Regions from separate parts of the Homo sapiens genome. Here all the other regions are reported to be linked to region 1. The links are microRNA targets in miRTarBase. Many come from high-throughput screens and were not tested one by one. Region 1 holds a microRNA gene; each other region holds the end of a gene's coding sequence. Distances are between the middles of the regions.

Evidence for each region. The annotated mature microRNA hsa-miR-6513-3p reads UCAAGUGUCAUCUGUCCCUAG and lies in region 1 at 1,347-1,367, opposite strand. An mRNA with a match to its seed (bases 2 to 7 or 8) in the 3' UTR can be bound and repressed. Matches are read on the target gene's strand: a 7mer-m8 pairs with bases 2 to 8, a 7mer-A1 pairs with bases 2 to 7 and ends in A, and an 8mer does both.
Region 2: the mRNA of TPMT is a reported target of hsa-miR-6513-3p. Seed matches in the 3' UTR shown: 7mer-A1 at 2,065-2,071.
Region 3: the mRNA of ANKRD36 is a reported target of hsa-miR-6513-3p. The part of its 3' UTR that is shown has no 7-base or 8-base seed match.

The regions. Positions count from the first base shown.
Region 1 is chr2:218,278,781-218,281,977 of GRCh38, forward strand. It overlaps MIR6513 (microRNA 6513), which reads right to left and starts at 1,408; the gene lies at 1,345-1,408. All of the region lies in intron 2 of PNKD (PNKD metallo-beta-lactamase domain containing), which reads left to right. TMBIM1 (transmembrane BAX inhibitor motif containing 1) reads right to left here. Exons shown (of 12, transcript NM_022152.6): 2 at 3,160-3,197; 3 at 1,246-1,346; 4 at 509-573; 5 at 258-311.
Region 2 is chr6:18,127,888-18,130,887 of GRCh38, reverse strand. TPMT (thiopurine S-methyltransferase) reads left to right here. Exons shown (of 9, transcript NM_000367.5): 9 at 108-2,577. The coding sequence ends at 220. Among named protein-coding and RNA genes, the nearest start is that of NHLRC1, 6.7 kb to the right of the region's middle.
Region 3 is chr2:97,249,913-97,252,912 of GRCh38, reverse strand. It overlaps ANKRD36 (ankyrin repeat domain 36), which reads right to left. Exons shown (of 76, transcript NM_001354587.1): 75 at 2,740-2,769. The coding sequence ends at 2,746. Among named protein-coding and RNA genes, the nearest start is that of ANKRD36, 140 kb to the right of the region's middle.

The sequences.
Region 1 (3,197 bases):
TGACGGGCTGAGAGGACATGGGGGCTGCAGCGCAGCGTGCACGCCACCACCAGCAGGTCCCACTCTTGCTCTCGAGTTCTAGGGGTCTGCTACTCATCTGGGCACGCACACCCACACCCTCTGGCACGGGAAACTGGCACCAACTTGGGGGCCCTCTCAAAAAGCATTTTGATCCTGCCCTGAGCAAAGCTGGTCACCTAGAAACAGAAGCTGCCACCCCTGCCTCCCTGCCCAACCACAGAGGAGCACACACTCACTAGGACACGTAGTAGACAGCCACATTTCTCCTCACAAAGGCGCTGACAGGTTCCCTGTGGGGCACAGGAGGACAGGAGTAGTCACCCTGAGGCTTGTCTGCCCCACCCAGGCCAGCCAGGCAGCCCTGGCTTCACCTTCTCTAATTGCCCATGGTCACCCTGAGAGCAGGGCCCACCGCCACCCACACCCCCAGCAGGTGACCCTGAACCCCCAGGGCAGTAGGAGTGGGTGGCAAAGCCTAGAGACTTACACAAAGGTGAAGATAGCAATGATGGCCACAGTGATGAGCAGCTGCACGGAGATGATGGAGTAAACCTGGACACAGACGGCCGGGCATGGGTCACCATCCGGCACCCCTGGCCTGCCCCAGGAAGCTGCCAGCCCCCAGTACTTTCCTCCCACTCAAGAACCCTCCCTAGCTGCAGCCTGGCCCAGAGGCGACCCCAGTGAGATGCCTGGCTCAGAGGCAATGTGCACTTCTTCCTCAGCCCCGCTCCCATGCTCCCTGCCATCTCCCCTCCTGTCCAACACCAGCCTCGGTGACTACTGACTTGCCCTGCCTGGCCACCATACTCTACCAGTATGGCCTCTGCACTCCCAGCAGCTCAGTCTGCACGCTCTATGCAGCTGTGAGATGGAGAGGGTGGGTTACAAGCGAGTAGGATCATTTCTGGCTCCAAGCTGCCTATAGTCTAAAGGGAGAAAGATGTCTGGGGAAGGCGGGCGCTGTGGCAGAACCCACCTAGGAGATTCTCCCAGACTGAATGTGTCCTCCCAAAACATGGTCAAGAAGAGAGGTGCAAAAAGAGAGGGAACCCTGGGGTTAGAGAAGCCAGGTGCCCCTCTGAGAAGCAGACAAGGCTAGAGAAGACAGGCAGCCAGTGTATTTCATGGAATTGATGCCCTGGGGCTACTGTGGCCTACCCACTTCCCATTCCCACAGCCTGAGGGGCCCCAGGTACACCCACCTCCCAGCGCGTATCTTACCTTTCGGATAAAAGTGTGTCGCACTTTCCGGTCATCCCACTCTCCAGGCCCGAAGCTATCACTCACTGCTCTCTCCTCCCCATCATAGCCATGGCCTGGGCCTAGGGACAGATGACACTTGACTCAGCTGGGGACCTGAGACATGTGGCGTCAATCCCAAAGCCTCCCTGACAATCTCAAAGTCTCAGGGATCTCCAGCCAAAAGACAAGTGTTATAACAGGAACTCTTCTCCCAAGCTGGGGTCTTCTAGACACCCTCAGAGTGACCCAGAGCCGGCCTGTCACGAGGGGGCTTAGGTGGGAAACGTTCCTCACGTGCATCTGTGGAGGGCTCCTGTGTGCCCAGCCCACGCCACTGGGGGTTCACTGGGGGGTCACGATGTAGTGGGGAAGCCAGGCAGGAGCAGGTATGGGCATCCACTGGGGCAGCCAGCCAGGGCAGAACAGGGGATGGGGACAGAGGGTAGGAGAAAAGGAGGGCGGCAGAGCGCAGTTTGTGCAGCAGCAGGGATAGAGGTGAAGACAGGGATCTGCATCAGCCTCACAGAGGCAGGTGTGCAAAGGGTGTGCGTGACTGTGCAGGACCCATGCGCAGATCCGCACCAGCGCACATGTCCAGGTGAGAGCTGGCTGACACCCCTCTGGGGTTCAGAGATGCTGCAGGGCTGCAAACATTCCCTGAATGCCTGAATGCCTGAATGCCTCTTTGGGAACTACTTTTAAAATCCACGCTTGAGCCACCCAGGAAGACTCACTGCACTCTAACTTCACCTCATTTCCTTTTTTTTTTTTTTTTTTTTTTTGAGATGGAGTTTCGGTCTTGTTGCCCAAGCTGGAGTGCAAAGGCGTGATCTCGGCTCACCGCAACCTCCACCTCCCGGGTTCAAGCAATTCTCCTGCCTTAGCCTCCTGAGTAGCTGGGATTACAGACGCATGCCACCACGCCCGGCTCATTTTTTGTATTTTTGGTAGAGACAGGGTTTCACCATGTTGGCCAGGCTGGTCTCAAACTCGTGATCCGCCCATCTCAGCCTCCCAAAGTGTTGAGATTACAGGCATGAGCCACCGTACCCGGCCTCTTTTTTTGTTTTGTTTTGTTTTTTGTTTTTTTTTTGGTTTTTTTTTTGAGACAGAGTCTTGCTCTGTTGCTCAGGCTGAAGTGCAGTAGTGCGATCCTGGCTCACTGCAACCTCCACCTCCTGGGATTGCAAGCGATTCTCCTGCCTCAGCCTCCTGAGTAGCTGGGATTACAGGTGCACGCCACCACACCCGGCTAAGTTTTTGTATTTTTAGTGGAGATGGGGTTTTGCCATGTTGGCCAGGCTGGTCTCGAATTCCTGACCTCAGGTGATCTGCTCGCCTCAGCCTCCCAGAGTGCTGGGATTACAGGCGTGAGCCACCGCGGCCGGCCTCACCTCATTTCTGACCAAACACAAGCATGTCCCTGCCATGATGTTTACCAAACTTGGCTCCAAATGTCTTTTGCAAAAGTCAGATTTCACTTTAAAGGATGAGGAAAGTGGTTCAGGTTCCCAAAGGAGTTCCTAAGGAAGTCGACAGGTCTGGGAGGTGGCAGCAGCTTGTTGGCCGCTTGTTGGGAAACAGAGCTGGTGCCCTGAGGTAACCCCTCAGGAGTCATTACTTGGCCCAGCCCCATTCTCCTGTGGTGTGTACGTTCTGGGACATGCCTCATGGATCTCCTTGAACAAAGGGGGCAGCAAGTGGCTGGGGGCCAGTTGCTGAGGCAAAAAGTGGAGGGTAACAAAGACAGAAACAGAGGGAGAGATCTCAACAGAGAAGATGAGAAAGGGATTTAAGGGAAACTAGAAGAGAAAAGGGGCAGGAGGCGGTGGCCTCATCTGCTCCAAGTGCTGTCCCTCCCACCCACCTTCCATCTGCCCTTCCAGGACTCACCGTAGTTCATGGGCATCGGGTGGGTGGGGGGCATGGGC
Region 2 (3,000 bases), not on the chromosome of region 1:
GGATTACAGGTGTGAGCCACCGCACCCAGCCAATTTTGAGTATTTTTAAAAGAATCCCTGATGTCATTCTTCATAGTATTTTAACATGTTACTCTTTCTTGTTTCAGGTAAAATATGCAATATACGTTGTCTTGAGAAGGTTGATGCTTTTGAAGAACGACATAAAAGTTGGGGAATTGACTGTCTTTTTGAAAAGTTATATCTACTTACAGAAAAGTAAATGAGACATAGATAAAATAAAATCACACTGACATGTTTTTGAGGAATTGAAAATTATGCTAAAGCCTGAAAATGTAATGGATGAATTTTTAAAATTGTTTATAAATCATATGATAGATCTTTACTAAAAATGGCTTTTTAGTAAAGCCATTTACTTTTTCTAAAAAAGTTTTAGAAGAAAAAGATGTAACTAAACTTTTAAAGTAGCTCCTTTGGAGAGGAGATTATGATGTGAAAGATTATGCCTATGTGTCTTGCAGATTGCAAGATATTTTACCAATCAGCATGTGTTACCTGTACAATTAAAAAAATATTTCAAAATGCAATGCATATTAAATATAATACACACAGAAAAACTGGCATTTATTTTGTTTTATTTTTTTGAGATGGAGTTTCGTTCTTGTTGCCCAACCTGGAGTGCAATGGTGCAATCTCAGCTCACTGCAACCTCTGCCTCCCAGGTTCAGGTGATTCTCCTGCCTCAGCCTCCTGAGTAGCTGGGATTACAGGTGTGCGCCACCACGCCCAGCTAATTTTTTGTATTTTTAGTAGAGACAGGGTTTCACCATGTTGGTCAGGCTGATCTCGAGCTCCTGACCTCAGGTGATCTACCCACCTCGGCCTCCCAAAGTGCTGGGATTACAGGCGTGAGCCACTGCACCTGGCCTGACATTCTTTATGAAATTTAGAATTGTTGAAGAACTATAACATTTCAGTAGGGTTCAAGGTGGTCCCAAAAGTTATATAAAAGATTAGTTTTTACTATAAACCCTTGTCTTTTACTCAGATCCTAGCATCCCTTTTCACATGGTTTCTCCATGTATATAACAGAATCAAGAAACAAATTTTAATTAAACAATCTGTAACAGAATCAAGAAACAAATACATTTTAATTAAACAATCTATATGGAACAAACATTCCCAAATTCTAAGAATAAATTTTTCTTTAAGTTTTCTCTGAGTTTGGCAATTGTTGTTTTTTATAATTTAATCTGTTTAAATCATCAGGTCTTATAAAATATAATGTACTTAGAGCTGGATTCATGGCTGTTTATTATGAAAGGTTAGATTTCTCAGTTCTTCTTTAACCACATTTTGTTATATCAGACAGTCCTCTATAACTCTGTACTACCCAACAACTAAATGGTTTAGATTGTTTAGCTCATGTTAATAGGATGGTTGTGTATTATAAAAAACGAGTTACGTGTGTGTGTGCACGCATGCACGCACATGTGCTGGCTTAAAGGTTGTTAATGCAAGGTTTGGGGTCCCCTTTAACACTGGTGAAAGCTACGGTACTCTCCCCAGAGATATGTCTTGTCAGCCTCTCTAGTTCCCCTTGGCCTGCATGTACAAACTTCTACCCTAGAAGCTCTCTGCCATCGATGTATTCTAATAGATTTGTAAGGCTATTAATTTGAAGCAACTCCTTGCTCACAGTGATTCTTGCTTCTCTGAGACCTGCTCCCAGTCGATACTGTGGGCTTCAGAAGCCATGACTCCCCAACTCTGCCTGTATCACCGGTTGAATGGACAACTAACCCGAGCTGGACCAACACAATTCTCTCCAGAGACTTTTGATTTTACTTTTATGTAGAGACAGGGTCTCACTTTGTTGCCCACGCTGATGTTGAACTTGACGTGAGGCCTCAAGCAGTCCTCCTGTCTTGGCCACCCAAAGTGCTAGGATTACAGGTATGAGCCATTGCGCTGGCCCTCTTCATAGGCTTTTGGACTTGGGAATAGAAAAGCAACCCCGTCTCTACTAAAAATACAAAAAAATTAGCCAGGCGTGGTGGCACGTGCCTGTAATCCCAGCTACTTGGGAGGCTGAGGCAGGAGAATCACTTGAACCTAGGAGGCGGAGGTTGCAGTGAGCTGAGATCATGCCACTGCACGCAAGCCTGGGCAACAGAGCAAGACTCTGTCTCAAAAGAAAGAAAAAGAAAAGAAAAAAAAGAAAGGCAAGTTGACTGCTGAAAGGGGAATCTGTGTACGCCTGGGAGCTGTGGGGCAGCCACATTCCAGCACATGGATCTGAGAAACAGAACGCTGATCTGCAGAAAGAGATGAGAACCAAAGAGAGGCCACCTGCGTCCTGGGTCCATTTTCATCCTCCCTGAAGCCCAGCTGCCCAGGGTGGGGAGAAACACCCTGTGTCCATGGGATAGAGTCCTTTCCGCTTGCAGTTGTGCCCAAAGAATCTTAAATACAAATGAGATATCCTTAGGTAGTTGATCATTTATGTAATATGTGTCTTCACTGGGGAATACTGACTTCCTAAAATCTCAAGATGGAAGATATACCACATGTAAATTATTTTAGAGCAATTAAATTGTTTTCAGGATTTTCCAAAAATGCTTCTTGTTTCATTTTATTATTTAAGTAACAGATTATCTGAGCCTCTGTGCCCTGCACACAGTGGTTTATAAATGCCTTGCCCTGCCTATGAAGCAGGCATGAATGCTCCAGTATAGACAGTGTTATCACTAGCAGACAGGACAAAGTAAGAAAGGTACGTAATAATTAATCTATTTGGGTGAATGTGGAAAGAAAAATACAAAGAAATATAACCAAAGCTTAAACAGCTATCACTGGGAAGTCAGAGATTTGGCTCCATAAAGAATGGTTTAGGGACCACAGAAGGTGGCCCAAAAGATGTACCTATGAGAGAGCTCCCAGCTGACGGGATTCATTGGCAGCATGAAGTGACAAATACAAATCTAAGCCATGGAGATATTAGTTCAAGCAATTTACCAAGTCGCAACTGTAGTACATACC
Region 3 (3,000 bases), 120 Mb from region 1:
AAAACCTTATTAAAGAATTCCTGAACAATATAAAGTTCCCTCAGCAAGACGGAACTTCCCAAGCTCTTGTCTCAGGAGAGAATGTGGATTATAGAAAGATTGTGGGTGTGAGTGGAGTGGGAAGTTATTTAGGTAGTAAGATTTTCAGGCTCGGTGCAGTGGCTCACACCTGTAATCCCAGCACTTTGGGTGGCCGAGGTGGGCAGATCACAAGGTCAGGAGATGGAGACCATCCTGGCTAACAGGGAGAAACTCCATCTCTACTAAAAATACAAAAAAAAACTAGCTGGGCACCTGTAGTCGCAGCTACTCGGGAGGTTGAGGCAGGAGAACCGCGTGAACCCAGAAGGCGGAGCTTGCAGTGAGCCAAGATCTCGCCACTGCACTGCAGCCTGGGTGACAGAGCCAGACTCCGTCTCAAAAAAAAAATAATAAAAAAATAAAAAGTTAAAGAGGCCAAGAAACATCATTTAAAACACGATATAAATTTTCATCAGACATAAAAGATAAAAAATATTTTCATTTAATAAATACTTTTGCATGTCACACATTTAACGGGAAACAAAATATCATGTTAACAGCCTAGTAATACAATTTTATTGTCTTAGATTTTTTTCGTCAGCATGTATTCTTTCTGTTTTGTTTTGCATTTGAGATGGAGTCACTCTGTTGCTCAGGCTGGAGTGCAGTGGCACGATCTTGGCTCACTGAAACCTCTGCCTCCCGGGTTCAAGTGATTCTCCCACCTCAGCCTCCCGAGTAGCTGAGACTACAGGCATGCACCACCACACCCAGCTAATTTTTGTATTTTTAGTAGAGACAGGATTTCACCATATTGGCCAGGCTGGTCTTGAACTCCTGACCTCAAGTGATCCACCTGCACTGGCCTCCCAAAGTGCTGAGAATACAGGCATGAGCCACTGCAGCCAGACAGCACATATTCTTGTTATGCTTTTAAAACTAGTTATTGATTTAAATTTTACTCATTAGTAGATTCTAGTGCAGAAGCTATAGAGCAGCAGTCCCCAGCCTTTTTGGCACCAGGCAGCAGTTTTGTGAAAGATAATTTTTCCACAGATGGGGGTTTGGGGGATGGTTTCAGGATGGTGATTCAAGCGTATTACATCTATTGTGCACTTTATTCCTATTATGACTACATTGTAATACATAATGAAATAATTACACAACTCATCATAATGGAGAATCAATGGGAGTCCTGAGCTTGTTTTTCTGTAACTAGATGGTCCCATCGTGAAGAGATAGGAGACAATGACATATCATCAGGCATTAGAGTCTCATAAGGAGCATGTGACCTAGATCCCTTGAACGAGCAGTTCACAGTAGGATTTTCACTCCTGTGAGAATCTAATGGCTTTGCTGATCTGACAGGAGGCAGAGCTCAGGTGATAATGTGAGCAACAGGGAGTGGCTGGAAATACAGATGAAGCTTCACTCGCTTGCCTGCCACTCACCTCCTGCTGTGCAGCCTGCTTCCTAACAGGTCATGGAACTGTGTGTGGCCTGGGAGTTGGGGACCCCTGCTATAGAGGATTCAGATTTAAATTCAGAAGTTAGAATGAAAAAGAATTATATTCTTTATCTAAATGATTTCACAGTTAACTAAGAGAAAGTCAGTATATGCTGAAAAGCTTATCAGTGTTAATAAGAATGAAAAATATGTACAATATGCAATTACTATTAAATATAATTTGCCCATAGTTGCACACCGAATTCATTATCATGGCAGTTAAGTATCAGAGCTTCTGGTTTCTCACTCTTCGTTCATGTATTCAGCAACCATGTGCTAAGGTACTAGGACAAGCACTGGAATTACAAGATAAAGATGATACGGTCCGCCCCTCAACAACTGTATGCTATAATCTGAAAAAACAAACAGGCAATTCCCATACAGAGTCATACATACAATGACAAGCATAAGACAGCACTTATTGGAAGACATAGAAGGGATACTAGCCCAGGTTTGTGTCAATATTGTAGGCTTTTTGGTAGAGGCAATTCATAGGTTGATATCTGAAGGGGAAGGAAAACACATGTAGGATAGAGGGAAGAAGTAAATGCAAACAGCTGGAGGTGAAGACGATCACTGTGGAGCTCCATGTAGTCTAGTTTGGCTGGATGCTAGAACAAAGGTGTAGAGTATGGTAAGTGGCGAAAGATAAGGCTGAATAACTTGACAAGAACCACACTGATGTGAGAGTTTTGATTCCATGCTAAGGAATTTTCAACTTTTCCCAGGGGCAAAAGTAAACCAATGACAAAGTCAATGACTAGAGATTTAAAATGTCACTGGTCAAGTGACTGCTTGTGACCTGTAATTGCTTAACTAATTATTATCACATGAGTGTGGGGTCTGTTAGCCTTAAATCACTACCTTAACCTTGAGAAGTTGATAATGCCTTTGTTTTGTGAGAACAGTTTCAGTGTGCAGGCTGATAGTCTATAGGGGTGGCAGAAGAAAAGTGTAGGGCCAGAAAAAAAGGGATACACAGATTTCTTGCGATTTTTTTAAAGCTATGAAACATGATGAATTAACAAAGCATAAGTATACCCTTCACTATGAATGTTTATGTTTTCACATCTTTCACTAGATGTGTGTAAGAAAAAATATTTAATGTAGCATTTATTAACCAAGCAATTGAGAGGGAATACCGTTCACTACTTAGAGTTTATTTCAGAAATCAATGATTTGAATTTAATTCATAAATTTTGGCAACATACCTTCATCTAGCTCTCAAACACCTGCAGCATCTGAAATAAATCAAATATTACTTATAATGTTTCAGTCAAACAAGAGACATTATCATGTAAACCCACTGTAAGTCAAGGAGCATCTGTACTGTAGATTGATCATCCCTAATCTAAAAATCTGAAATCCAAAATGCTCTACAATCTGAAACTTTTTGAGCACGGACATGACACCACAACTGCAACGTTCCACACCTGACCTCATGTGACAGGCTCTGGGGAAAACAGTAAAAA